7 linked regions of the Homo sapiens genome follow. The protein of the gene in region 4 purifies or fractionates together with the protein of the main gene of each other region. This does not show direct contact. Each region holds a gene or a part of one and is shown on either strand. Other genes may lie near its edges. The genes, in order: RNF121, SPTLC2, GNPTAB, SLC6A13, POMK, RAB5B and SNX25.

Region 1 (4,440 bases), on a different chromosome or scaffold from region 4:
TACCCAATTATAATCTCGGCTCCACATTAGAGTCTATCAATAAAACAGAAAGTGCTACACAGGGGGCAATATTAATGCCACATGTAAACCACTGCTCTTTTGTAAACCCAACCTTTTTCAGCTCAAACCCATCTCTATCATAAAGACTTTACTGACTCCCCCTAGCTGACTCAAGTGCTTGATCTCTTGTGCCCCACTGCATTTGTTACATGCCTCCATTACAGCAATTATCTAGTATTATAATACGCTATTTGCATGTCTCTTCACTCGACTGTAAATTGGTAAAGATCCTGTCTTACTCATCTTTGAATTATCAGTGCATAACACACAGTAGACCCCATAATTACATATTAAAGACGGATTTCACCTGCTGTTTCACAAGCTAAGGCTGCAAAGAAACAGCTGGGGAGACATTAGTAGAAACCTGAATACCAACTAAGGTCTGCCAGACCAGACCTCTGTTATTTTTGGAGCTTGAAGGGATGACTGTTCTGCTTCTCAGAGCTTACTTTCTCAAACATACAACAACAAAAAAGATAGAACCAGTCCACACGGAATTTCCAGACAACAGATTATACCTTTTCTCAGGAAATGAAACAAGTAACAAGGTTCCTGGAATGAATGCTAGTGGTTTCATATAAAGTTAACTCCTATGCATGATACTCTGTAAAGTCTATTATACTACTAGACGCTCTCAAGTCCTTCAAGCAATAAAGAAAAGCTAAGAAACAAAAATCAAACATGTCTTAATGAAAATGTTATTTTCTTAGCCGGGCGCGGTGACTCACACCTGTAATCCCAGCACATTTGGGAGGACAAGATCGGCGGCTCACCTGAGGTCAGGAGTTCGAGGCCAGCCTGACCAACATGGAAAAACCCTGTCTCTACTAAAAATACAAAAAATCAGCCGGGCGTGGTGGTGCATGCCTGTAATCCCAGCTACTCAGGAGGCTGAGGCAGGAGAATTGTTTGAACCCAGAAGGCAGAGGTTGTGGTGAGCTGAGATTGCAATACTGCACTCCAGCCTGGGCAATAAGAGCGAAACTCCATCTCAAATAAAAAAAGAAAATGTTATTTTCTCCTCTGCCAAAACTTCTGCTGTTTATCTCAATGAACCCTGACATATGTAACTACAGCTTTGAGATATACGTAATTGTCTCAAGGGAGAGCCCATGACTAACAAACCTTAAATAAGAACTTCAATACAGTATTTACCCTTTCCAAAGTGTCTTCAAATATATCTCACTGAACCACAGCCAACTGTAATCACAGAAATGTAAAAGCTAGAAGGGGTCTTGGAGGTCATTTCCACAACCACTCCACCTAACCAACCAACTGGTATCCAAACACCTGTAGTCTCTAGTGATTGGGAGGTAGAAGACTACAACACTTCTTTAAAAATCCCCCTGCTGTGATCACCTGTCAATTTCTCAGTCCCTTCCTCCCACCTTAATGATCCCAATCAGGTAATCCAACTCCTCCAACTCATCCCACTACCAGGCAACAGTCTTATTGCTTCCCAAGTCCACTTCTCCCTTTCTCTGAACCTCATCTTCAATCATCCCCAATCCTCCCCACTCTTCCCACACCCAACACACAGCAAGGGGCCTCTAAGATTCTGACCCCTCAGAGATCTCACTGGTTCTATCTCTGACAACCAATCCCCTTCCTCCTATTCCTGTGATGTCTTTGCCCATATGCTGGCATGTGCAAGATCACAAACACCACTAGCTATCAATGTCTCCATGGCTTCAGAATCTTTTCACCTCTGTCTCTGCTTCTCTGCCCTGTCCCTTCATTCCTTTCACACTCAACATCTCCTTCCTCCTAGTGATTCCTTCAAGGACCACTGGTATTTTAATACACCAGTCTTTAAATGCCTATTAGATAGGTAAAGGGAACATACAATCTCAAGGAGCTCACCTTCAAGGAACTCATAAATCCAGAAGAAGAGAGAGACACTTATTTATCGTTTAAAACTCAGCAACTCCGGGAAGCCTTCCCTATCCCAAGCTGAAATGTTGCACACTTCTCAGTGCCACCATTATATCTCTAATGCAATGACTAGTCTTCTTGTCTGTCTCCCACCACTAGACTGTGGGCTCTTCAACGGAGGGGCCCCTTGTCTCCCTAGCACCTGGCCCAGAACCCGGAGCAAAAGTCATAATGTTTATTAAGTGAATAAATGCATGAATTCCGGCATACAATCATTTATTCATCCACTTGTTCCTTCATTCGTTGGCCAAAACTTTACTGAGCATGCATTAGATACAAAGTCTTAGAATGGAACGATAAATAAAACAGTTCCAACTTTAAGATAACTCAAAGCTATACTACTAGTGGATTAGCACTCTTTCCCGGTCTGTGTCCCCAACCCCCACCCTAGGCTTAGACAGAGTCCTCTCCCACAGTAGAAGCCCAGCCTTCCCCTGAAGAAATTCACGTCCCTCCAACTCAAACTACCTCTTAGCCCTTCGGTCCTACCCTAAGACACCCAGCTAGTAATCACAAAATCTTAACACCCCCACCCCTCCGACCTCTCTCTCTGTCCTCCATCTTCACCCTTGAGGCTAATGCAAGTCTTCTACTCCCAAGGCCGCCTCGGAGTCCCCAAGTCAGGAGTGCCTCTGACTTCGCTCTCCACGCACCCGCCCCCTAGTCAGCTCCTTCCCTCTCAGGATCTTTCCCTTCTCTCCTAAGACCCCCACCTCCCGATACCTCACTGCCCCTCCCCTCAGTCTCAGGTTGAGTCTCTCCTCGTCTCTCAACTCCGCTTACCTCATCCAGCTCCCGTTCCCCAGCAGCACCACCTCCAACCTCCACCTCCACCACTGCCGCCATCTTCACGGCTCGCCCCCTCACCGCAGTCCCCGCGCGAGCCAGCTGCTTCCGCTGCTCAAGTGCTCCTAGCCAATCGGCGGCTCGGACTCCAGCAGAGGGGGCGGGGCATCAACACAGGCGGAGACTGTCAGGGATCAGGAGGTTATCTACTTGCTGCACGTTTCAGGGTCAAGGAGAGGGGAGTACCGTGCCCTTGCAAGCTTCAGCAAGGGAGCGTTCTTGGAAAATGAGAAATTTGAATCGCATTATTTTCAGTGCAACTATTTAACCAATTCTTCCCTTTGGAGAGCCAAATGGGAGCGTTCCAAAACGGGCAACTTTCGCGACGCTCCCTCAGTCTGGGCTCCAAGGAGCGAGACGTGGGGACTAGGAACTACGTTTCCCAAGCTGCACTGAGGCTGACCCGGAAGTTTAAATTCCGCTCCCTCCACGAAAGAGTTGTAGTGAGTGAAAATAAATATTAAAACACACGGAAATGTATTTTCCTGGCTGCAGCACCTGCCATCTTGCCTCGGTAGGACTCATTTTCAAAAACAGCAGCTTCTTGAAGCCCCAGAACGCATTCCTGTGCTACGGAAGACGGAAGAGTAGCTCTCGGGGTCAGAAGGCGAAGGTCAGAAGGCCGAATTGGCGGGAGAATAGGTTTGGTGGTCCGAGATCCGAGGCAACGGTGGCTCCTCGAGGTCCACGGTCCCGGGTGAGGGGCGTTGGGATTTGTTGATGGGGAGGGGAGTGGCCGAGAGGGAGGAGGGTGGCCATCAAGGAAATGAACTGAGCAGCCTGTTCCCGATGAGCTGTGAAAGCAGCGGTGCGGCTTGAGCTCCCGAAACTGAGAGCTGAAGAGCCTTGCGGGACCTCCAGGGCACCCACATTCCGCGTCTTACTTAGGCTGTCATGCCAGTTCACACACCTCGGCACACTTTTCTAACCCACATCCTGCGGCCCCAGCTTCTGCCTTACCCTCCTTTTTATACACCATTCACTGTCCCACCCCTACGTATACCTTCATAACTGATTTTTCAGCAGCCGGTGAACTCGATACCTTGCAAGCCTGTAGCCCCAGCTCACACGCCTCTGGGCGTCCGCCTGGATCTGTCTGGTGAATGGAACTAGGATGGCCTGTGAGCCCACAGAACGTCTAGAAAAGTCAGCTTTACATTGGGACCAACAGAAAATTACAGGGAATTATCTACATCATCCACAGGCATCCCATTTACTTAAAAATAATCATTTTTATTTTGTGACACTTAATACGGAGAATATTGTAAATACTGTACACCCATCACCCTAAATTGACTACTGGCATTATGATTTATTTGCTTATTTTTTAAAAGCTAGATAATACAATAAAAGTTAAACTTACCTGTTTTTTCTACTCTCAAGCCTATTACCCTCTCATCCTCTCCAGAAGCAACTATTATGAATTAGAATTAGCTTGTGTTCTCCCAGTCCATTTTTAATAATTATATGTAGCCATGACTATATAGTATTGTATTGTGTTTCATTTTGTTTTTTAATCTGAGTGCTTTTTTTTTTTCTTTGAAACGGTGTCTCGCTGTGTTACCAAGGCTGGAATGCACTGGTTCAATCTGGGCTCAC
Region 2 (3,832 bases), on a different chromosome or scaffold from region 4:
CCAGTTCACCCGCTGGCTTCAGCTGATTACTCAGACCACACAATTCGTATTTAACAATCCCCCACCCCTATCGTAAGCCAAATTGGAGGCCCTGTGGCCTTACTCCACATCTGTATCTTGTCTAAATAACACATTCTAACTTTTAGTTAATTTTGTCTACTAAATTATGTGGGTTTTTTTTTGAGTCTCTCGCTTTGTCGCCAGGCTGCAGTGCAGTGGCACGATCTTGGCTCACCATAACCTCCACCTCCCAGATTCTAGCAATTCTCCTGCCTCAGCCTCCCGAGCAGCTGGGATTACAGGTGTGCACCACCACACCCAGATGATTTTCGTATTTTTAGTAGAGACGGGGTTTCACCATGTTGGCCAGGATGGTCTCGATCTCCTGACCTTGTGATCCACCCACCTCGGCCTCCCAAAGTGGGATTACAGGTGTGAGCCACTGTGCCTGGCCCAAATTATGTTGCTTTTTGTCTTTTCCTCTTATTGACCTCCCTTATGTTTCAACTTTTCCTTTAAGCTGTTTACAGCATTTGTTTGAGAATAAAAAAATGTGGCCGGGCCAGTGGCTCGTGCCTGTAATCCCAGCACTTTGGGAGGCCGAGGCGGGCAGATCACCTGAGGTCAGGAGTTGGAGACCAGCCTGGCCAACATGGTTAGACCCCATCTCCACTAAAAAATACAAAAATTAGCCAGGTGTGGTGGCACACATCTGTAATCCCAGCTACTGGGGAGGCGGAAGCACAAGATTTGCTTGAACCTGGGAGGTGGAGGTTGCAGTAAGCCGAGATCACGCCATTGCACTCCAGCCTGGGCTATACAGATCCTGCACATTTGGCATTACATTAATGCCAGTCTTTTCACAGCCTTTTCCCACTCTCTGTAGTACCAGTACATCTTCCTCAACATACCTCCTTTGTGTCAGCATGAACCTGGGTGCCCTGTATCTTCAGCACATGCTCCCAAACTGTCTAGTGCCTTATTCTAATTCTTTACCTTCTCTAAATCTTTTTTTTTTAACTTCTTAAATGCACAAATTTATTTTTTCTCAACAAACACACATCTTAATGCCTTTACAACTTTTATCTCCCCAAATATACCTTGCTTTTCTTTATACATGCTGTATACAGAGTTGTTTTCCTTATATTTAGTAGTTATTGCTTTTTTGTGCCCTTTTGGGTCCTGTACCTTCTCTAAATCTTTCCTAATTAAAGTGTACACAGTCAGTTGCACCTATGTAGAATAAAGGAGACACAGCCTTCTTTAAAGAGAGCTCTAGACTGAGTCCTTTGGATCTGATAACTCTTCATGTTTGTTTATGAGAATTCCACTTAAAGAAGAATGAAGAAAATCCTTCCCCATCCCCTCTGAAGCCATAATACCAACTGCCCATATGACTTCATGTTGAAACCCAAATTCTTCTTTTTCTCTCAGGGAGCACCTTTTCCTTACTTCCCTTTCATTCTCTTTGAATCACATTACTTCCAGGTTCCCTGATTTAATTTCCTCTCCCATATTCATTTCAGTAAACATTTACTGAGTGTCGGAGACTGTGGTGGACACTGGGGATTCAAAAATTTACAAAAATTGCTCCTTCAATGAGTTCAATCAAACTGGAGAAATGCTTTAAGATCCAGCTCAAAACTCACCCATCCAACAAGATGTGCCTTTCTTACTGAGCCTATACTAAGCAGGTCACTCCTTTATTCTACATCTTCAGGGCCACTTTGCATATAATAAAATTTGTTCAGTATAATTACTGTTCATTTGCTTTTCAAATGTCTTCTGGTTTCATTATACATCTGGACTTCTCAAATACATTGAAAGCTATCCTAGGGCAGGGCTTTCCATTATGTATGCCTCATACAAACCAAAGAAGCTGGTGTAATCTGCACACCTGGTAAGTATCCAATAACACACTCTGATAAAACCTCTCTGACCTCATGGCCCACTGCTCGCCCTGGGGCACGGTGCTCCAATTCCAGGGACCTCTTTGCTACTCTTCCGTCAGCTAAGCAAGCTCGCTTCTGTACTGTGGCCTTTGCACAGATGCTTCTTTCTCCAGTGGCTGTCAGCTCCTTCAAATCTTTGCTCAGATGTCATTTTCCTTCCCAAGGAGGCTTCCTTACCCTGACCACCCTATTTAATAGTGTTATCGGCCCGCCCACAGGGCACTCTCAACTCCCCATATAGGTCCTGCTCTATTTTTTTCCATAGCACTTGACACCTTCTAACATCGTACACAGTTCATTTGTTTATTATGTCTGTCTGACTGTTGCCCCCTACTAGACTGTAAGCTCCACAAGGACAGAGATGTTTGTATTTTATTCACTGATCTATCCCAGGCCCCTAGAGAGTACATGAAACTCAAATGTTTAATGAAAGAAGAACAAATTAACATACTTTACAATTTGGAATCCACTATTTGATCTATGGCATATGTACCAAATGAAGGTTAACACAGTAAGGACAAGACCATTTTCCCTAACAAAATACATAAGCCCTGGTCTCACATCACAGATAAGGATAAGGACAGACTGGTCTGTGATCTGCAACAAAACGTACCCAATTTTGGCAGGCATGTAGAGCATCAAAGGCACTACTGGAGAGTCTTCATTTCCATAGATGATGAAGCCCATCTCTTTCAGGCGTCTCCTGAAATACCTGGTGTTTTCAGCTAACTGTTGTACACACTCTTTACCTGGAAAGTCACGGTGAGAGAAAACAAAATAATCCTAAGTAAAAAGGAATGGAAAAAAGACAGTAAATCTCCTCTATCTCCATTCTATCTAATCAGTTCTGTTTCGTTTTTTTCCATTTCACCATAAAATATTTTACAGAGTAAACCATATGGAATATAAATGTAAAATGTCTCATTTTGTATTCTGTCATTCTACCTGTTAACAGCAGAAGTTATAATAATGTAAAAAACGTTTAATGGAGCGTTAGCATCCTCAAAGAATTTCAGCCATACCCCCTCACTGAGCACTCCACAAATCCCTTGACAGTAGGCAGGATATTTATGATTATCTTCATATTATAGGTGGGGAGACTCTCACCAAGGTAGTGACATGCCTACAGTTGCACAATAGTGTGTGGCACATTACAAGTAGCAAGTGGCATAGCTGCAACTAGAATTTACATCTTCTAACTTTAAGATTCATTCTAATTAACTGTGCTGCAAATAAATTTTACACATAAGACCAGAGATGAAGCCTTTAGACCCCCAAATTTTCATCTTCTGAGTTTCATTTTGTTGTTTCCTTACAATTCTTTTTTTCTTTTTCTTTCTTTTTTTTTTGAGACGGTGTCTCACTCTGTCGCCCAGGCTGGAGTGCAACGGCACGATCTTGGCTCACTGCAATCTCTGCTTCCCGGGTTCAAGCGATTCTCCTGTCTCAGCTTCCTGATAGCTGGGGTTACGGGTGCACATCACCACGCCCAGCTAACTTTTGTATTTTTAGTAGAGACAGGGTTTCGCCATGTTGGCCAGGCTGGTCTCGAACACCTAACCTCAAGTGATCTACCCACCTTGGCCTCCCAAAGTGCTGGGATTACAGACATGAGCCACCGCGCCTAGCCTGTTTCCTTAAAATTCTTACCAGACAACAGTAACATATCTGTAATAGTATAAAATCGTATCTTTAATCCTATTTTGCTCATCTTCCCTAAAACACAAATAGATTAAAACACACGTTTCTGTCTGCAATTGCCAACTGACTAAATATTTGGGCAGGTTTTGACATTATGGTAAGTCAATCTTTGAAAAGATATCCAAACAACTGTTCTGTTATACAGAGCAAAGCAATAAATTTAAAAGATCTGCTTGGAA
Region 3 (3,832 bases), about 100 Mb from region 4:
CGCCTCTGGAAGAAGTGTTATGGGACTAACTAAATTTTCGTAACCCTTCTGGGCTGTAGAATTCAGTTTTGGTCCCTCCCTTGTGTCCACCTCCACTGTTATCTGCATTTTGAACTCTTCATCGTTTGTATTTTGAAACGTGAGATTAAAATGTATTGTGGTGGCATTCATTCCACTGTGCATTATGAGGTGGATGGTTTTCCACTTGTTGGCAATAGAAGCATGTCGAATTATTGGATTGTCACTATAGGCACCTTCAACTCCTCTTTTGGCTACTTCTGCAAAGCTGAAATAAGGCAGGCATTCACCTTTTGGAATAATATAGTGAGTCTGGTTTGGGAGAAGGATCACTTTATACAATTCATGAAAATGATCTAGAGGAAAAAACAGAAACATGATTTTTTTTTTAACTGGGCATTTTTCCTCTGTTTTCCTTTAATTCTTTGAGTCTGAGTTTTCACTTTCTTTTAAAAAAAATAATAGGGAATGCATCATGAATTTGCATGTCGTCCTTGTGCAGGGGCCATGCTAATGCCTAAACTGTTCTAATTTTAGTATATGTGCTGCTGAAGTAGGCACTGAGTTTTCACTTTCTAAGAGTGACTTTAATTTCAAAATAATCAGATATCCTAATACAACAGTTACTGGTATAGGGCTTATTTCACTATCTGAGGCAGTCACAATAATTACCATGAAATAGTGATCCTGACTCACTATAGAGATATGGCATGGTTCTTAACAATAAATTACAATAATCAATTTCCATCTTTTTATCCATTTGAAAAAAACTTTCTGCCAAAACAAACTCCATTAATACGCTATCAACAAAATCCAGTGTTTGAACCATCTTTATTTAATGAATTATTGATATCCTTTTTTGTTTCCAAATTAAAACTTCACCACATATTTTCAGCTAAGGTAAATCTGCTTGGTCCAAACAAAACAAAACAAAACAAAACACCAGACTGCAACAATAACAGGAAAAGATCCTCTTCAGTGATTTATGTTGTTCTCTTACTTTCATAACTAGTTTGAATGCAAGGCTGGTAAAGGGATACACAGAGAATCATTATTTTAAATAACAAAAGCCATTCAAAACTCTCTCTACCTGTCAAGGATGTTTTATGCTCCCATTCTTATTTGTTTGGCAGTAAACATACCTTGCCCACAGTCGCCAGCATCAAACCCACAGGACAAGACATTGCATGCTTGGTCACAGAACTTATCAGCGAGCCAGGAATTCGCACATCCCTGATTACAGTAAGAGACACTGTTTATTCCTCCACCAAACTGCCAGGGCTGTCCAACTCCAATACTCCCAGTACCTCCACCTCCTGCAATATAGCGACTCCCTCCACTGTTTCCTGTAGATCGGAGGAAGAAGAGGGATTCTTGCTGTAATTACAATTTTGAAAGACAGTTCTGGACTGGGTGTGGTGGCTGACGCCTGTAATCTCAACACTTTGGGAGGCAGAGGAGGCTGGATCACCTGAGGTCAGGAGTTTGAGACCAGCCTGGCCAACATGGTAAAACCCCATCTCTGCTAAAAACACAAAAATTAGCTGGGCGTGGTGGTGGGCGCCTGTAATCCCAACTACTTGGGAGGCTGAGGCAGGAGAATTGCTTGAACCCGGGAGGCGGAGGTTGCACTGAGCCAAGATTACACCACTGCACTCCAGCCTGGGCAACAAGAGTGAAACTCCGTCTCAAAAAACAAAAAACGAAAAAGACAGTTCCTTATTTCATATTGATGTTTTCAAGGTTGATGTGTAAGTTTTAGTCAGAAAAGGTTCACCTCATTCTTTAGTAGAAGATCTCATATACCTTAAGAAGAAAATAAACGTAAAAGGGAGTCACTTGACAGAAGCGTGATGAACAGGCCCTGGCATTTTGTAGCTGTGCAACCTACAAGTACAGGGCTTACATTTGCTCAAGGGGCACGTGCTGACAGAAATGGAGGAGCACGAAAACAAGAAGAGATTATTCCAAAGACTGTGACTATCAGAACTGCCAAAAACATGTCCAAACGTGGGTAACATGTTTGATACCCCTTGTTATCAAATGCTAATGTTCCAGTAGAGACTGACTTCTCTGGTCTACACAGATCTACTTTGCACATCTGTATTCTCTCTCCTCAGCTAAAGCGCATCTGACATATCTGACTGAAATACAACTTGAAGCTTTGTTTTCTCCAATATTCAAACATTTCCAAATCCATTTCTTCATATGGAAATGGGGATGATAACATTTGTGTACATACTTACTCTCTCTCTCTCTCAGGTAACAAACACAATTCAAGTGAATATAATGAATAATGCTCTATAAATTTAATGCTTTATAAATTGAAAGGTAGTAAGTAAATGTAACAAATTGCTATTATCAACAAGTCAAAATATAACTATGTGAGGGAGAGGGAAGAGCTGCTGAGGAGAGAAAATACTTATTTCTTTTGCAACTCTTTAGTAATTCTGTGACCTATCACAATCTGCTGCTGAAAGCTACCAGCAGTGAGCTCCTATAAGAACCAGTTAGAGTGATTCTTGCTCTTGGATTTATATAAGTGTATTCCAGATTTTCATATTTTAAATAAGAAGACATTTTCAAGTGTATTTTCTCTTGTTCAATGCCCTCAACAATGAATAAACTGGGCCACATGAGGGCACTAATTACCACCTCCAAAGAGTCCATTGATTACTGATTTGTTTGTTTTGAGAGAGGCTGTCACTCTGCCGCCCAGGTTAGAGTACAATGGTGCAATCACAGCTCACAGCAGCCTCTAACTCCTAGGCTCAAATGATCCTCTTGCCTTAGCCTCCCAAGTAGCTAGGACTACAGGTTTGCACCACCACACTTGGCTAATTTTTTTTGATAGAGATGGGGTCTTACTATGTTGCCCAAGCTGGTCTTGAACTCCTGGCCTCAAGCACTCCTCCCAGCTCAGCTTTGCAAAGCACTGGATTATAAGCATGAGCCACCATGCCCAGCATTACTGATTCTTTATTAATACATAAAGAATGTTTGGTTAAGTCTATAGCACATGTTCAATAATGATTAAGAAGAAAATATTCCATAAAAATGAACGAATTACAGTTTAACACATCCTTACCAGAGCAATCCCCACCATCCCAATCGCAGGCTGAATTATTACAAGCCTTGTCACAATAGCCATCCTTAATCCAGGAACCTGGGCAGCCCTCGGCACAGTTTGGCACAGGCCATGTCAAATAAACCTACGATAAAACCAAAGAGAAAATAAAATGACTTCTGGCTTCTGATACATTTTATTCTTGAGTTAAGATTCCCTTTATAAAAAGAAATTAAGTCTCTAGAAAGATTAAAATTTTCAAAGGGCTCAGCGTTCACACTCACAAGTGCTTTAAGTTTGCCTGTACCTACAGTCATTGTTTAGATCCTGCTGCGTTGACCGTTCTTACTGAGCGTATTTACTTTTTTTCCATTACTCAAGGAAAGCAGACAAGGATTCAACTCATGGATTAGTCTCTCATAACATGCTTTGATAATCTACTATGAAATAAAGTAGCACCATGCCAGACTTGACTGCAAGTACCAAAGCATGTCAAAGCTGGTGGGAAGTATGCACAGTCACTGCTTTTCTGTAACTATCAGTAGCTCATTAGTGTATTTGTGCATAATCTTGTCTCAAGGCTGAGAGACAATATCCTCTCTCTTCAAGCTTAAGGCCCTGTGATAAATTAACTGGCATAGCATTCTGAGCTGTGCATTCACCTGCTCTCAGAATTAGTGATGGGGTACATGGTTTTTCAAATTTAAAATCATTGAAAAAAAATACACTCCTCTTTAAAAATCTCTG
Region 4 (3,832 bases):
CATCCAAGGACGAAATTGCCAACAACGCGTTTCTCAGAGTGTACCCTTGTCATTAAGCGACACGTGACTGTAACTGCTATTATAAACCACAGTGGACCCTTGAGCAACATGGATCTGAACTGTGCGGGTCCACTTATACGTGGATTTTCTCCCGCCTCTGCCACCCCTGACAAGCAAGTCCAGATGAATTGCAAGTTTGAAAGACCTAAAACGTACCAGAGAGAAGATACGCGAAACAAATGAATGAACAAAACATATATCCATATATCAAACTAACCATATTTCAAATTGATTTAAGCAAATGGCTAAACAACATAAAAGTGGTCAGTTCTCATTGAATATGTTAATTTTTTCTTTAAAAAGTTCCTGACATTTGCCTGTGACGCTGGTGAATTCTTGATCTTATTCTTGACATAAGCTCTCCATGGTCGACTTGGGTGATTTCTGGTGTGTCCGTGTTAAGCGGGGATATAGTGACAAGCCCAATTCCGGTTAATGTGGCAGAACGAGAGGAGGAAGTGGACCCTTGGGTGAGGACCATACCTGTGTTCCACTCATGGTAGCAGCCGCCCCAGGGCAGGTCGATGGTGAAGCTGCTGAAGAGGTAGAACAGGGCCCAGGCCAACACAATGATGTAGTAGACGTTGAGGAGGATGACGATCATCTGGGAGGCATAGCCAATGCCTGCGGGGAAACTGCAGAATTGGGCTAGGAACGGTGGACAGCGGTGGCGTGCACCTGTCATTTCAGCTATGCGGGACGCTGAGGTGAGAGGATTGTCTGAGGCTGGGAGTTCAATTTACCATTGAGGGAAACTGCTATTTTTGTAACTCCCTGTGGATCTATAATTATTTCAAAATAAAAACGTAAAGAAAATCCTATATATGGAGAAATAATGAAATTAAATACTGTAAATTTTAAATACTTGTGTCAAGATAGAACTTTTTTTTTTTTTTGAGATGGAGTTTTGCTCTTGTCACCCAGGCTGGAGTGCAGTGGTGCAATCTCGGCTCGCTGCAACCTCTGCCTCCCAGGTTCAAGAGATTCTCCTGCCTCAGCCTCCTGAGTAGCTAGGATTACCGGTGCCCACCACCATGCCTGGCTAATTTTTTGTATTTTTTGTATTTTGTATTTTAGTTTCACCATGTTGGCCAGGCTGGTCTCGAACTCCTGACCTCAGGTGATCCACCTGCCTCGGCCTCCCAAAGTGCTGGGATTACAGGCATGGGCCACCACGCCCGGCCAAGATAGAACTATGAATGAAATAATTTTTTCTCATTTAAAGTTCTCTTTTAAAATGTTTATAATTGATTTAAATATGTCTTAAAATACAACAACATTGTTATGTGTTTAAAACATATGGCTAAAGTGGCTTTGCACTCTACTTACCTAACCTAAAGCCTCTGCCCCATCCTCACTGCTGTTTCTTGCCCATTCTCTGATAGATCAGCTGACTAGCTCAGTATGCAGCCCACAAACCAAGGGTTTAGCATAGAGACTCGGGATCTTATCTTAACCTCAGAACTGCTACTAATCACTCAAGTCATTCCAAACAAGGTTTATAACCACGAATGAAGACGCTTTGGAGTCAGGTACAGAGCTACTCACCCTCAAAGATGGGGCAGATCTTCCTCCAGGCTGTGACGCCTCCCTGGCTAGTGTACTGGCCTAGTGCTGTCTCCAGAAGGAAGACAGGAATGCCACAGGTAAAGAGGAAGACGAGGTAGGGGATGAAGAAGGCACCTGTGGTTAGAAAACAGGCTGTTCATTTCCTGGGACTATTCTCCTCATGGTCTGCATTCACCTCCTCCCATTACCAACCCATACTGCCAGTCAGAATCTCGGAGGCAGAGAACATGCAAAACTGCAGGAGACAGCTGTCTAGATGTTTGGAACATAGCAGAGATCAAGAGTCACCCCATTATCTAAGATCTACACAGCCTCTTGCCTTTTTTCACTGCAGTTTCAGTCTATACCTATTAAAGTTTGTTCCCCACTGAACAATTACTGCTTAACACATAACTTGTGGCAATAACAAGGAGCTTATTAAATAATGGATGTCTAGGAGCATTGGCACAGCCCACAGTCTATAATTCTTTTCAAAGAAAGCATTGCTCTTAACGTCAGGTAGTCTTTTAGTAAGCTGAAATCAGATGCCCTTTCAGTCATTGTTATGGTTTGAATGTATCCCCTAAAGTTCGTGGTTGGAAACTTAATTCCCTATGCAACAGTGTTGGGACGTGGAGCCTAATAAGATGTAAGTCATGAGGGCTCTGCCCTCATGAATGGATTAATGTTATTACTGTGAGACTGTGTTTGTTATAAAAGTGAGTTTGGGCCAGGCACAGTGGCTCACGCCTGTAATCCCAGCACTTTGGGAGGCTGAGGTGGGAGGATCGCTTGAGCCCAGGACTTCAAGACCAGCCTGGGCAACATGGGAAAACTCTGTCTCTAAAAGAAATACAAAAAATTATCTGGGCATGGCTGTGTGTGCCTGTAATCCTAGCTACTCGGGAGGCTGAGGTGGGAGGATTGATTAAACCTGGGAGTTCGAGGCTGCAGTGAGCTGTGATTGTGCCACTGCCCTCCCTCCAACCTGGGTGACAGAGCAAGACCCTGTCCAAAAAAAAAAAGTGTATTTGGCTCTCTGTCTTTTATATGAATATTCTCTTGCCTTTCTGCCTTCTGCCATGGGCTGACACAAAGAAGAAGGCCCTCACCAGAGGTGGACTGCTTGCCCTGGACTTCCCAACCTCCAAAACTATAATAAATAAATATCTGTTCCTTATAAATTACCCATCTCAGGTGTTCTGTTGTAGCAACACAAAATGAACTAAGCTAGTAATCTGTCTCCTTCTGTTTTTATAAGCATTGGCGGAGACAAGACTACTGATGCCAGATATACTGGTATTTTCCCTACCATGGACCTGTCATCTGCTGGCAAAGTGGACAGCACAGTTCATAGGACACAGAGTACCAGAGAAGACAGAACTGCACAGACAGGAGAATCTGCAGAGGGTCCCCCTCAAGCTTCCAACTGAGTACTAGTCAGTGCATATGTGTGAGAAAACTGAGGTGAGGGAAAGAACCATTCAAAATGATTAAAAGTAATGGTGCTCACACACTGCCAGAGTAAATAATCTCAAGATTCACCAGGCATTAGGCAGAGTACGCAGAAGGGCATTTCCTCAGTAACGGGGAATAATTATCCCTAGACCGAGCACACTTCTATTGCTACCTAACCAATCTTAAAAGCAAGATATAAAAAGAGCAAGTAACTTCACTGATCCCAGAACAGAGCTAAAGAATATTTACAGAAATACGAAATTGGCCGGGTGCAGTGGCTCACGTCTGTAATCCCAGCACTTCGGGAGGCTGAGGTGGACAGATCACCAAGTCAGGAGTTCAAGACCAGCCTGGCCAATATAGTGAAATCCTGTCTCTACTAAAAATACAAAAATTAGCCTGGCATGGTGGCACGCACCTGTAGCTCCAGCTACTTGGGAGGCTGAGGCAGGAGAATTGCTTGAACCTGGGAGGCAGAGGTTGCAGTGAGCCGAGATCGTGCCACTGCACTCCAGCCTGGGCAACAGAGTGGGACTCTGTCGCAAAAAAAAAAGAAAGAAAGAAAAGGCAGGGTGTGGTGGATTACGCCTGTAATCCCAGCACTCTGGGAGGCCAAGGCAGGCAGATCACGAGGTCAAGAGATCGAGACCATCCTGGCCAACATGGTGAAACCCCATCTCTAGTAAAAATACAAAAATTAGCTGGGCGCGGTGGCTCAAGCCTGTAATCCCAGCACTTTGGGAGGCTGAGGCAGGTGGATCATGAG
Region 5 (3,832 bases), on a different chromosome or scaffold from region 4:
TACTACTGCCTTTGTCACGAAAGCCTTGGAACCACAGCCCGGCCTGCATGAATATACTCAGACAGCTGCAAAGCAGTTCTACTCCTCTCACCTTAGGGTCAACTCCGACCCCAACTATGCCCCCTGTCAGCATGAAGAAGCTAGAGTGATCAATGGCCTTTTTCCATCTTCATAGCCCACACCTTAAGAATAAGATGCTACAAAACCCCAAAGGGAGGGATTGAAACCGCCTTTGCAAAATTATAACTGAGGGCTGGGCCCAGTGGCTCATGCCTGTAATCCCAGCATTTTGGGAGGTCGAGGAGGGCGGATCACCTGAGGTCAAGAGTTCAAGACCAGCCTGGCCAACATGGAGAAACCCCATTTTTACTAAAAATACAGGCATGGTGGTGGGCGCCTGTAATCCCAGCTACTCAGGAGGCTGAGGCACGAGAATCTCTTGAACCTGGGAGGTGGAGGTTGCGGTGAGCCAAGATCATGTCACAGCACTCCAGCCTGGGCGATAGAGCAAGACTCAGTCAAAAAAAAAAAAAAAAAAAAGCAAAAGTAAACCAATGGGATTATAACAAACCAAAAACCTTCTTCCCAGCAAAGGAAACAAATAGAGTTAAGAGACAAACTACATAATGGGAGAAAATATTTGCAAGCTATTCATCTAACAAGGGATCAATATCCAAGGAACTCAAACATCTCAACAGAAAAAAATAACAATATGATCAAAAAATGGGCAAATGATCTAAACTGACATTCTCGAAAGAAGACATACAAATGGCCAATAAATTTGTGAAAAAATGCTCAATGTTACTAATCATCAGGAAAATGCAAACCAAAATCACAATGAGATACCATCTCACCCCAGTTAGGATGGCCATTATCAAAAAGACAAAAAATAACAAATGCTGGTGAAGATGCAGAGAAATGGGAACGCTTATACTCTGTTAGTGAGAATGTAAATTAGTACAGCCATTATGGAAAACAGTATGGAGGTTCCGCAGAAAATTACAAACAGAACTAACATATGATCCAGCAATTCCACTACTGGGTATATATCCAAAGGAAAGGAAATCAATATATCAAAGAGATATGCACAGCCAGGCTAAGTGGCTCACGCCTGTAATCCCAGCACTTTGGGAGGCCAAGGTGGGTGGATCACAAGGTCAGGAGTTCAAGACCAGCCTGGCCAACATGGAGAAACCCCATCTCTACTAAAAATATAAAATTAGCCGGGCATGGTGGCACATGCCTGTAACTCCAGCTACTCAGGAGGCTGAGGCAGGAGAATTGCTTGAACCCAGAAGTGGAGGTGGTAGTGAGTCGAGACTGCATCATTGCACTCCAGCCTGGGCAACAAGAGGGAAACTCCGTCTCAAAAAACAACAACAAAAAAAGAGATATGTGCATCCCGATGTTTATTGCAGCACTATTCACAATAGCCAAGATATGGAATCAACCTAAGTGTCCTTCAGCAGATGAATGGATAAAGAAAATGTGGTATATATACACAAAATAGAATACTATTCAGCTATAAAAAAGAAGGAAATCTGTCATTTATGGCAACATGAAAGGAACTGGAGGACATTATGTTACGTGAAATAAACTAGGAACAGAAAGTTAAACACTACAAGTTCTCATTCATATGCAGAAGTTTAAAAAAGCTTACTCAAAGAAGTAAAAAGCCTAACAGTTTTCTAGAGGCTGGGAAGGGTAGAGCAAAGGCGAGGATAGGCAGAGATTTGTTAAAGGATACAAAATTACAGCTAGATAAGAGAAGCAAGTTCCAGTGTTTCATAGCACCATAGGATGACTATAATTAACAATATATTATACACTCTCAAATAGCCAGAAGAGAAGATATTGAATGTTCCCAACCAAAAGAAGTGATACATGTTTGAGATGGCAGATATGCCCTGATCCGCTAACTACACACTGTAAGTAGGTATGGAAACATCACTGTGTACCCCATAAATATGGATAATTATTACATGCCAATTAAAAATAAATTGTTAAAAATCAGTATAATACCATCACAGAGTTTGAAAAACAGGAAAAGAAATTGCCCATAATCCCCCTTTCACCCTAGCACAATTTCTATCATTTTCATATTTTTTTTTTCCTTTGGAGACAGCATCTTGCTCTGTCACCCAGTCTGGAATGCAGTGGCAAGATCATGGCTTACTGTAGCCTCAAACTCCCCAGGCTCAAGAGATTCTCCCACCTGAGCTTCCCAAGTAGTGCGCACCATTATGCCAGGCTAATTTTTGTATTTTTGTAGAAACTGGGTTTTGCCATGTTGCCCAGGTTGGTCTGGAACTCCTGTGCTTAAGTAATCCGCCCACCTCCGCCTCCCAAAGTGCTGGGATTACATGTATAAGACACTGCGCCTGACCATTTTTGTATTTATCTACATATACACGTAATTTCACAGTTGAAAAGTCAATTATACAATTTTATATCTTGTTTTCTTCACTTATCATCATAAGGTTTTATTCATGTTGCCTCTTGGGGTTCCTAACTACACAACAGTTGCAGAATATTCCGTCAAGTGGATGGACCATCATTTAATGAACTATTCTAAAAGTTTTGTTTCTAGTTTTCTATCACTATGGCACTCTTTTATGCATTTGACTTTTTTCCTGCCTTGGATTACTTATTAAGATAAAGTCCGATTGGGAGGCCGAGGCAGGTAGATCACTTAAGGTCAGGAGTTCAAGACCAGCCTGGCCAACATGGTGAAACCCCATCTCTACTAAAATTAAAAAATTAGCCAGGCGTGGTGGCATATGCCCATAGTCCCAGCTACTCGGGAGGCTGAGTCACGAGAATCACTTGAACCCAGGAGGTGGAGATTGCAGTGCACCGAGATGGCGCCATTGCACTCCAGCCTGGGTGACAGAGCGAGACTCTCAAAAAAAAAAAGATAAAGTGCCAGATGTAAGATTATTGAGCTCAACAATAAAAACGTAGAGCTAGCAGGGCTCCTAACACTGGATGCCACACTGCTTCCCTAAGGGCTGAAACCTATGCCTACTGCAGCACTATTCACAATTGCCAAGATACAGAATCAACCAAAGCAAATGTGGTGCACATATGCAATGGAGTACACTTTGGCAGTAACAAAGGATGAAATTCCGTAATCCGTGCCAGCATGGATGGAGCTGGAGGACACTGTGTTAAGCGAAATAACAGGATGACAGCAATCGCAAATGAACCCGGACTCACTCTCTTTACAGCTCCTTCCCCAACACGCTTCAGCTGTCTCACTTCTGTTCTCAGCTCCTCGCAGGACAGCCAAGGTGAGCAGTTTTTCATCTGTCCTATCCTGAAGTGACCATAGGGACAGTGTGTGGGGTCCACAGTGGATTGTCGAGGAGCGATGAAGAAGTGGTCGAGGCAGAGGTAGAGCAGAGTATTCATCAGGGCCATGATCAGCAGCAGCCCAACAGCTGGCGGCACCTCTCGGGGGGCGAGGCCTCTCCTGCTGTTCTGGGGCTGCTTTTCCATGTTGACGGCCTCTGCAATTTCCTAAAATACACAATGAAACAAGAAGTCATGACAGTCAGCTTTCACTTCCTTTCATTTCCAAAAATGTGTTCTGATGCCTCTTCTACTCAAGGGTCCTGTAAGCTGCAGCGTTACCGTGGGGATTAAAGCAGGTATCGAACACCAGGCTTATCCCAAATGCCCAATGTTAGCTGTTTCCATAATCATTACTTTTTATTACAAACTAAAATGCGGGTTCCTCTAGATTAGGTTAGGTGGGAGGTGTTTGTGTCTGACTCTGTCCGACTCACAGTAGCATGCATTAAATAGATGCTCATGAATATTCAGTAAA
Region 6 (4,538 bases), about 56 Mb from region 4:
TAGGACTGGCTTGCAGGTGAGAAAAGTTCCTTGGGGGAAAAAACCGAGGTTTCCAATGGGCGCTGTACAAAGGCTGGGTACAACAGAGGGCTTTTAAAGCTAGTAAGGACAAATTCAATTAATAAGGTGGTAGTATGAAATGCCCCAGCTGTACTCTGACTCTGAGATTTAGAGGAAAACCGATTTCAAATCCAGATAAGCTTGGAGCTTCTCAGATCCCTACAGAAAGACACACACTGTACTCCAGCCTAAGTGACAAAGCAAGACCCTGTCTCTAAAAATAGAAGAAAAGAAAAGAAAGACAAATACAGGGGCCTCTTAGGAGAACCATCATCATCATGGATAAGAAAGGGATAGTCAAGTAATGTGAACATGCAGAGACCATGAACATCCAGAGACCATGAATTTGAGATAAGGGTCTGAAATTCCTTTCTTTAGCAGAGATGCCAACAATTATCCCAACCAAAATGATCCTTTCTCCCCATAAAGTTTTGTTCCATCTCTTTGGGCACTTCCTAGGACACCCAGCACACAACTTGGGGTGTGTGTGTTTGTGTGTACTCAAGGTGAATAACACACAGTACAGCCCTCTGCTTGTCGGACTTGGTAGAAGACAAAATGAACTGTGAAAGGAACACAATAAATAACAGAGTATCATCCCAGAAGGGAAAACTGTAGAAAGAATAAGACTAGAGTTTGATGAGAACATGAAAACACAATTGCCTTTTGTGACACATCCCCCAAAGCAAAGCAAGATTAGTCTGATTTGCTGTCTCTGATCCTTGACCTTCCTAAATGAAATATGAATAAGGTATGTGTGGGAGGATTTATACTTCTTAAACTGCTGTACACCTTCCATATTTTAAAATATGTACATATTAACTTTTGTAATTAAGAAATGTAGTGATGGCCGGGTGTGGTGGCTCACGCCTGTAATCCCAGCACTTTGGGAGGCCGAGGTGGGCGGATCATGAGGTCAAGAGATTGAGACCATCCTGGCCAACATGGTAAAACCCTGTCTCTACTAAAAATACAAAAATTAGCTGGGCGTGGTGGCGCACGCCTGTAGTCCCAGCTACTTGGGAGGCTGAGGCAGGAGAATCTCTTGAACCTGGGAGGTGGAGGTTGCAGTGAGACTCCGTCTCAAAAAAAAAAAAAAAAAAAAAAGAAATGTAGTGATAAAATATATTGGTAGAGACGCAGAAAAGGAGGAAGTACAGTAAGGGAAAATCCAATAGGCTCCAATCTATGAGGGACTAAGAAGGCTAGCAGACCATTAAAAATATGTGGGGAGGAGGGTACTCCACTCCTCTGCTTTGGCAATCTTTGTCTTTTTTTTTTTTGGAGACAGGGTCTCATTCTGTTGCCCAGGCTGGAGTGCAGTGGGAAGATCATGGCTCACTGCACCCTCGAACTCCCGGGCTCAAGTGATCCTCCTGTCTCAGCCTCCCAAAGTGCTGGGATTACAGGCGTGGGCTACTGCACCTCTGTATCTTTTTCTCTACTCACCATCTTCCCCAGATACTTCATAGTTTGACCCAACTTTCTAACAGCACAGAAATCTGGGCTTTTGAAGTAGACAAAGAACAAGGGGTGATGCCAAGCTTTTGAAATGGAATTTCTCACTCTTCCCCAAATCTCTTCCTCAGTGATATCACCGCATAGTTTCGGACCTGTTAACTCCATTACCTGCCTGGGAAATACCCAAGTCAAGTCTAAGTCCCACAAAAGTTTCACCAACTATGATCAGAAGATCTCCTGATGGCTGAGGATCTCTAAGCCCCTTTCCCATGTAGATAATGAAATAGATATGAAATAGATTCTCAGTTCTAGGAGACATGGTATTTGCTATAGACCACATTATTAAGTGGGAAAGAAGTGGACAAAACATGCCCCCAATCCAACTTCTTAGCTCTTTCATAGGACATGAAACAGTAAGTTAAGAAACAGACTGCAGTATAGACCAGCTATGAGGCCAACAGAAAGTGTAGGGGCTGAGTTTGGAGCAGCCAACAGTCATGGAAAAAAAAAAATTACTTTGATCTTCATCCCTACCCTGGGAGTTTTAAAAAGCTTCAAATTACCACATCTAAACACTAAAGGGAACAAAAGAGTGTGTACTCCCAAGACCCAGAGCCCCCAGCCCACCCTTCAGCATTCCCAGAAGTTCCCATAACTGATACCAGGCCCTGCTTCCATTACTTCAACTACCTTAGTCTTCTAGATTAATACAGCCTTCTTCATTTTCCCCAGTTCTCCCTCACTGAACCCAAATCTCTCTCAGCTCAACACCATAGCACCCTCAGTTCTTTTTACAATAGGCACTTTCCCTGAAAAGAACGCTTCTTACCCAACTAAGAACCCTTCTCAGGCCCTTCCAATGAACCTCTCTGCAGGGACCCAGCCCCAGTCACCCCCGGGGCTCGGGCGACAGGTCTGACCCTCCTCACCTCCCGGCAAATGGGCTTACCTCACCCGCTGCCCTGTTCCTTTCCCCAGCTCCTCCCTCTTCAGCGCTGCTTAATGAGGCCTGCCCCTGCCCTCACTCAAGCTCCAGGCCTCCAGCCCCCGGCCCTCGGCCTGGCCGCCGCCACAGCCCAGCCGCCTTCCCGACTCACCAACTTCGGGGTCCCAGGCCGCCCAGTCCCCTCCTCAGCGACCCCCATTAGGCCTGCCGGGGCCCGGCCCCCTTCTCCCCTCTCCGGTGGGCCACTCTAACCCCTCGCTTAGGACCAGACCCGCCTCCGCTCTCAGGCCAGGCTGCTCTCATCTCCCGGGCGCTTCCGCCCCTGCCCTTTGGGCTCCATCAGCTCGGTACCTGGGGCTCCGTCTCCCCCGTCGGCCCCAAGCCTGTGTCGAACAGACAAACAGCTGCAGCTCAACCAAACCCTCCTGCCCCTCCTTCTCCTCCTCGCCCTGGGGCGGGGCTCCAGCCAATAGCTCGATTACCCGCCTACCTTCGAGGGTGGGCTATATGTGCACTCATCCACCAATCCTCTGGAGAAAGGCGAGTCTCTTTGGGCGCTGTCACCAACAAGTACGAGCAAGGGACGCGACAGGCGGGGCCACAAGCCAATAGCGAGGGAGAAACCTCGAAGATGGACGAGGTAAGGAGCCATTAAAGAGCAAGCTCCTGAAGACAGGGGGCGGTACACTGCCGACAGGCGTATGTATCCACCAATAAAATCTCGACACCCCATGACCCCGCCTTTTGACTCATAAACATCTAATCAGGTGAGTGATGGAGGCGGGTCAAAGTGAAACTTTAACCAGTACTGCGAAAATACGGTACTTGACTGGCAGGCAAGGAGGGGTTGAAGGAAGCCTTAGGAAGGCCGCTACTGACCTTCGCCCCTCCCCCTGGACTTGGCTGGGGCTGGCTCTAGTGCCCTGCCTTCTATGACAAATTCGCGGGCGTAAAGGGAAATACCTCTTCTAGGGATCCGGAGCCTGGGAATTTAAGTAACCCTGACATCAGCGCTTCCTCCTTTTAGTGAGGCTTCAGTGGACAGGCGTATTTGGGGTGGCCGCGGGCGGTCTGAGATGTTTTTTGGTGGAATGAGACAATGGCAACTACAAGAAGTGGTAGCTTGGAGACGCTTTTTCAGAATCGTATGTAAATGTAAATAAAAGAATCTTTGGAAAACTTTTCTGTCTGTGATATGAAACAGAAAGGAAAAACGGCGGGCTTACTGGGAAATGCAGTGTCGAAAGGCAAATTCCCCGGGAGCCCTCTTCCTGCCGCTATGTATGTGCATGGGTGTGTGTATGTATGGGGTGTGTGTGCATATATGGTGTGTATGTGGTGTGTGTGTATTTGGTATATGTATACGTGGTGTGTGTGGTATATGTGTGTATATGATGTGTGTGTGGTGTGTGTATGTGATGTGTGTGTGGTGTGGTGTGTGTGTGGTATGTTGGCTGGGGGAAAGGAGGTTTGCTGGTGTGTGGAGAAAGTGAAGTAGGAAGTATATAGGCTTCAGTTTCCCCAGCCATAAATAGGGATGATAATAACCACTTTGTTCACCGTCAGCACTAGCCAAAATGGGGTGGGGTGGGCAGCCATGCACAGAGAGATTAGGAAAAGGGGTCTGAAATCAATGATCACATACACACATTCATATTCTGTCTCCCACCATTCTTTCAGTAAATAAGAGGAGGAAAGAGATGAACTATAAAACTAGGCACATTTTTTTAATGAGCTACAAACTAAATTACAAATAACGTTAATAGCAAGAGCACTCAAGGACAAGGGTGACAGAGACAAATCATAAAAAAAAAATGCTTTTTTTTTTTAGCACTGTCATTACAAAACCCCAAGGTGCACATGGCAACAAATCCACCCACTATGACCAAAAAAAAAAAAAAAAAGCCAACTCTACTATTGGATATAACCTGAAATATAAATATAATTGTTCATCCTTCTTTTAAAGAAATATTTTTACCCATGCCCTCACTCAATCACAGCCCTGAAAAAGTGTCAGCATTCTCAAAATGATGCCTAAACCCTAACTTCTAACTCCTATGGGGTAGGAGGT
Region 7 (4,355 bases), on a different chromosome or scaffold from region 4:
TAATTCTAGCCCTTTGGGAGGCTGAGGCAGGAGGATCACTTGAGGACCCTGTCTCTACAAAAACTTAGCCAGGCGTGGTGGCTTGCACGACAGAGCAGACCCTGTCTCAAAGCAAAAAAAAAAAAAAACACACACACACACACACACACACACACATCACACAAATTATTGGAAATACAGCACTAGAGGCTTGAGTAAACAGTACCAGTACTACAAAGAAAATAGAATTTTATGTGAATGACATGTATTTCAGTTCTAAGCAATATATAACTTAGAATGTAATTTCCTAATGCACTTAAAAAATTTAAAAAAAAATTTTTTTTTTTTTAAGAGGCAGGGTTAGGCCAGGCACAGTGGCTCACGCCTGTAATCCTAACACTTTCCGAGGCTGAGGAGGGCGGATCATTTGAGCTCAGGAGTTCAAGACCAGCCTAGGCAACATGGTGAAACCTGTGCCCAGCCCCTAATGCACTTAATTTCTTATTTAAGGCTATTTTAGGAATTCAAGGACAAAAATAATTACCAATATTCATTTTCCTTAGATTATACTTCCCCTCTTCTATTACCTGAAATCTTCGGGTAGTATTCATGAGAGATTTATACATGCTGCTTCATTTTCTCTGTCACCTTTAAAATACTATTTTCTCCAACTCCTCTACTAAACAATCTTTCTAGATGATAATCCACGTTTTACCTACCCAGAGGTGCCAGTGAGCTGGGAGATTTGCGGGAATGCATTTTCCAGGAAACAGAGTGCTAACCCACAACAGGAGGCTTTCAATGCCCTGGGAGATGGTCTGCAATACCAGGACTTTGATCTTGACCTAACCCTCTAAACTTCCTTCCCTCACCTACTAGTCCCTCTTCATCTCTTACCTCTTAATCACTGTTTCAAAAGCATTTATCACTATCCCACAGTATTTATTTATTGCCTGCTCCCCCATAAGATCTCCAGAGAGCAGGATATTTATGTGTCCTGTTGATTCAAACTCAGCTTCCAAAACAGTACCTGGCTCACACAAGATGCTCAATAAATATTTACCGAATGAATTATAACATCTTACAGTACTCAAGAACTAAGACATATTTTATTGATCAACAAACAAACTAGTAAAATCTCAGGGTCCTTACTTGCCATGGTAGAAAAAAAGAGGAGAGACATATCTGCTCCGCAACTCCTGCTAAATGAGATATGAAAAACGGATGGCTAAGTGGAGATTTTGTAAGAGAAACCAACTTTACTAATTTTTGAGACCACTTCTAAAAACAGGAGTTGCCTGCTCCTTAATATACTGCCTTGTTTATCAGCCTACTGAGCGAAATGTCTGTTACCTACTAATGCCTTCCGCCATTATCTCAGCGCTGCATTCTGAACTAACACACTCAGAGTAGTTTGGTGAAGTGTGGTGCTTTCTTTTAAAATAAAGGAGTGAGCAGGTCATGTGATAAGCAAATACAAACCCTGGGGACAAATGATCATTAACAAATATTCTTATGAAGTTGAGCCACTGCCATTTATCTTACCCCAAAGCGCTTGGGCAATTTCATTAGAATGATGGTATCACTCAGTCAAGCAGTGAGTGTTAAGCTGGGATAGAATAAAGTTCCCTTTAAAGGATTATGAGAAGGAATGTGGAAGAAAGATGGGGCAGTGGGTTTGGCACTGAAGAAGAGAAGCGCTCATTTAAAACACTGTTCTTTCCTACATTCCCTAACCCCCGCCCTAGTGTCCCACAGCGCGCTGAGGATGGCTTTCCTTTTGTTGCAAACCAGTGATTTCTGGCATCCCCCTTCCAAATCACAGAAGCCAGCGGGGACTGCACAACTATAATACGTATCCGCATGGTGGAAGGCAGGATAGGGTGGTGGGAAGGGTACGCGGGCTTGGGGGTGAGGCGCTGGGCCAGGGACCGAAGCAAGTTTCCTCATCGGCAAACGGTCATAAAGTTGCCTCCCACCGAGAACGGCCAGAAGAACCAAGCGGATCGCCAGGACCGTGCGCAGAGCCTGCACGTAGCGAACGCTGTGATTCCCTTCTTCCCCTCCCACGGCAAGCGACACCGAAGGTCTGGGGACACCCTTAGGGTTGTGACTGAGGATGGTTGTCGAGTGACTACAGAGCCCAGTAAATAACGCGCATCTCCTCCAGCACCGCGGAGCGCGGAGCCCGGAGCCCGGAGCCCGCCGCGCGCGGGCGCCGGGGAACGCTCGCGTCCACGGCCGGGCCCGCAGCCCAGCCCCCTGGCTCCCGGCTTCCCGCTTCGACAAGGGCATGCCGCGGCCCCCCGGAGCTCGGGGCGCGGGAGCTGGCACCGGAAGCGGGGAGGGCCGGCGGAGCTGGGCGGCCAGGAGTCGGGTACTTACCCCCGGCGGGCGGCGGGCGGCTGAGGTCGCGGCCAGCCGGCTCCAGGCGGCGGCGAAGTCGGGCGGCTGGGCGCGCGGGCTCCGGCAGACGAGGGCAAACAGGATCCCCAGCAGGAAGGCGGCCGCCGCGCAGCTCAGGTACAGGCTGAGCCTGAACAGGACGGAGCTCAGCCCCGCGGCCCCCGCCGCCTCCCCGCTGCCGGGCCCCAGGAAGGAGAGGGCCACGGCGGCGAGTGCGGCCACCGCCACGGGCTTCCACCAGCTCCGGCCGCCCGGGGCCCCCGGCGCCGCCGCTGCTGCTGCCTCCGCGTCCCCCGGGGACTCCGGCCGCCGCTCGCCCCTGAAGCCCGAGACAGGACGGCCGCCGGCGCCTGCGGCCCGCGCGGGGCTGGGGCCGGCGCCGCCACTGTCGGTCGCATCGGGGTGCATGCTGCTTCCTGGGCCGCTAAGGACAGGCACATCTCCTGCCCCCCGGTCCCCCGCCGGCGCTCCGGAGGCAGGGGGAGCCCGCGCTCATGCCTCGCCCGCGGCCCACCGAGGGAGCGGCCCCCGCAGACGCCGCCGGGCCCCTCTCGGCGACCCCTCAGCGCCGCCACCAGGCGCTGGGCCCGTAGCTGCCGGGCCGGGCGCAGCCAGGGAGCCCCACCGTGTTGTGACTGAAGCCTGGCCAGCCTGACGCGGGCGGGGCGGGGCCGCCCTGAAGTGCGTGTCGGGCGGGGCCCGGAGCCACCGCGGCCGCTGAGTGACAGCCGGGAGGCGCCCACCCACAGCGCGGGGGCGGGGTCCGGGCCGGGGCCCCACGGGGAGAGGGCGCGACCCAGCGCGGTGCACACCTCTCTTTCCCACGCTCCCCTCCTCCTCTACAGGATGCCGTCTGTTCATGGAAAATTTTGCTGCAGGTGTCAGCGGCGCTGGTAATTCCTGAGCTCAGGTGATCCCGTAATTCTCCCTCTCCGCTCATCACTGACGAGTAACCTCTTCGCTTTGCTTACAGCCGGCAAACATTTCTGCCTGGTTTTCACTCGCTATTTAAATAGGCAACCGTTCCCGAGACTCCCTGTCACAGTTTCTAACGACCTTCCCTTTCCCACCCTGCCGCCTTAGGGAAGGAATCAGACACGTGCGGTGGAGTAAGTGAAGCCTGCAATTCCTAGCTATGGAAAGGTCCAAAGAAGTCGGCCTGGTGCAACAGGGTGCACGCAGCTGCCCATAATCACTTTGGCTCCACTTCTGGTTTTTGTTTTGTTTTGTTTTGTTTTTTGTTTTTTACCAACTATTCAGTTCAAATGCTATCAGCCACGCAAAGGAACGTGGTCCAAATAATTTTTAGAGTATATATTTGCCTTTTCTTCTGTCATAGTCCCAGCCAGTAATATACAGATAACGCTTGCTAAGTAGATGCCAATATGCTACTTAAACACTGGCAATTACTGCTAAGACTAATAAAGAAGCAGATGTAGCTTTTGCTTTTAGTATCAATTGGTATTCATGGGCATTTCATTCTTTCTTTCTTTCTTTTTTTCTTTTTTTTTGAGACGGAGTCTCTGTTGCCCAGGCTGGAGTGCAGTGGGGCGATCTCGGCTCACTGCAATCTCTGCTTCCTGGGTTCAAGCCATTCTCCTGGCTCAGCCTCCCGAGTAGCTGGGATTACAGGCACGCACCACCACACCTAGCAAATTTTTGTATTTTTAGTAGAGACGGGGTTTCACCATATTAGCCAGGATGGTCTCAATCTCCTGACCTCGTGATCCGCCTGCCTCAGCCTCCCAAAGTGCTGGGATTATAGGTGTAAGCCACCGCGCCCGGCCTCATTTCATTCTTTCTTAAACCTTCTAAGTCAGAAATGAAGAGTGCCTCATGCTAGATGTGACTTTGCCATGCCAAGGGGATGATCAAAATAAGTTACCAGTTTCCTTTCTCCTCCTTTTTTAAGAAAATAGGGGCGGGCACGGTGGCTCACGCCTGTAATCCCTACACTTTCGGAGGCTGAG

What was found.
Region 1: the proteins of SLC6A13 (region 4) and RNF121 purify together in Homo sapiens (affinity purification with mass spectrometry; one large-scale study listed by BioGRID and IntAct). This does not show direct contact.
Region 2: the proteins of SLC6A13 (region 4) and SPTLC2 purify together in Homo sapiens (affinity purification with mass spectrometry; one large-scale study listed by BioGRID and IntAct). This does not show direct contact.
Region 3: the proteins of SLC6A13 (region 4) and GNPTAB purify together in Homo sapiens (affinity purification with mass spectrometry; one large-scale study listed by BioGRID and IntAct). This does not show direct contact.
Region 5: the proteins of SLC6A13 (region 4) and POMK purify together in Homo sapiens (affinity purification with mass spectrometry; one large-scale study listed by BioGRID and IntAct). This does not show direct contact.
Region 6: the proteins of SLC6A13 (region 4) and RAB5B purify together in Homo sapiens (affinity purification with mass spectrometry; one large-scale study listed by BioGRID and IntAct). This does not show direct contact.
Region 7: the proteins of SLC6A13 (region 4) and SNX25 purify together in Homo sapiens (affinity purification with mass spectrometry; one large-scale study listed by BioGRID and IntAct). This does not show direct contact.

What each region holds. Positions count from the first base shown.
Region 1 is NC_000011.10:71,927,463-71,931,902, reverse strand, and holds the start of RNF121 (E3 ubiquitin ligase RNF121), read right to left. Parts: upstream 2,858-4,440; 5' UTR 2,842-2,857; coding exon 2,779-2,841; intron 1-2,778. UniProt on the Homo sapiens protein: E3 ubiquitin ligase which accepts ubiquitin and transfers it to substrates thereby promoting their degradation by the endoplasmic reticulum-associated degradation (ERAD) pathway which is a pathway involved in ubiquitin-dependent degradation of misfolded endoplasmic reticulum proteins.
Region 2 is NC_000014.9:77,518,881-77,522,712, forward strand, and holds part of SPTLC2 (serine palmitoyltransferase 2), read right to left. Parts: intron 2,702-3,832; coding exon 2,566-2,701; intron 1-2,565. UniProt on the Homo sapiens protein: Component of the serine palmitoyltransferase multisubunit enzyme (SPT) that catalyzes the initial and rate-limiting step in sphingolipid biosynthesis by condensing L-serine and activated acyl-CoA (most commonly palmitoyl-CoA) to form long-chain bases.
Region 3 is NC_000012.12:101,764,931-101,768,762, forward strand, and holds part of GNPTAB (N-acetylglucosamine-1-phosphotransferase subunits alpha/beta precursor), read right to left. Parts: intron 3,231-3,832; coding exon 3,107-3,230; intron 1,365-3,106; coding exon 1,161-1,364; intron 375-1,160; coding exon 1-374. UniProt on the Homo sapiens protein: Catalyzes the formation of mannose 6-phosphate (M6P) markers on high mannose type oligosaccharides in the Golgi apparatus.
Region 4 is NC_000012.12:242,071-245,902, forward strand, and holds part of SLC6A13 (sodium- and chloride-dependent GABA transporter 2), read right to left. Parts: intron 1,744-3,832; coding exon 1,609-1,743; intron 685-1,608; coding exon 544-684; intron 1-543. UniProt on the Homo sapiens protein: Mediates sodium- and chloride-dependent transport of gamma-aminobutyric acid (GABA). Mediates transport of beta-alanine. Can also mediate transport of taurine and hypotaurine.
Region 5 is NC_000008.11:43,103,218-43,107,049, reverse strand, and holds part of POMK (protein O-mannose kinase), read right to left. Parts: intron 3,523-3,832; 5' UTR 3,502-3,522; coding exon 3,220-3,501; intron 1-3,219. UniProt on the Homo sapiens protein: Protein O-mannose kinase that specifically mediates phosphorylation at the 6-position of an O-mannose of the trisaccharide (N-acetylgalactosamine (GalNAc)-beta-1,3-N-acetylglucosamine (GlcNAc)-beta-1,4-mannose) to generate phosphorylated O-mannosyl trisaccharide (N-acetylgalactosamine-beta-1,3-N-acetylglucosamine-beta-1,4-(phosphate-6-)mannose).
Region 6 is NC_000012.12:55,972,420-55,976,957, reverse strand, and holds the start of RAB5B (ras-related protein Rab-5B), read right to left. Parts: upstream 2,881-4,538; 5' UTR 2,819-2,880; exon of another isoform or gene 2,667-2,818; coding exon of another isoform or gene 2,619-2,666; intron 1-2,618. UniProt on the Homo sapiens protein: The small GTPases Rab are key regulators of intracellular membrane trafficking, from the formation of transport vesicles to their fusion with membranes.
Region 7 is NC_000004.12:185,208,265-185,212,619, reverse strand, and holds the start of SNX25 (sorting nexin-25), read right to left. Parts: upstream 3,023-4,355; 5' UTR 2,794-3,022; coding exon 2,365-2,793; intron 1-2,364. UniProt on the Homo sapiens protein: May be involved in several stages of intracellular trafficking.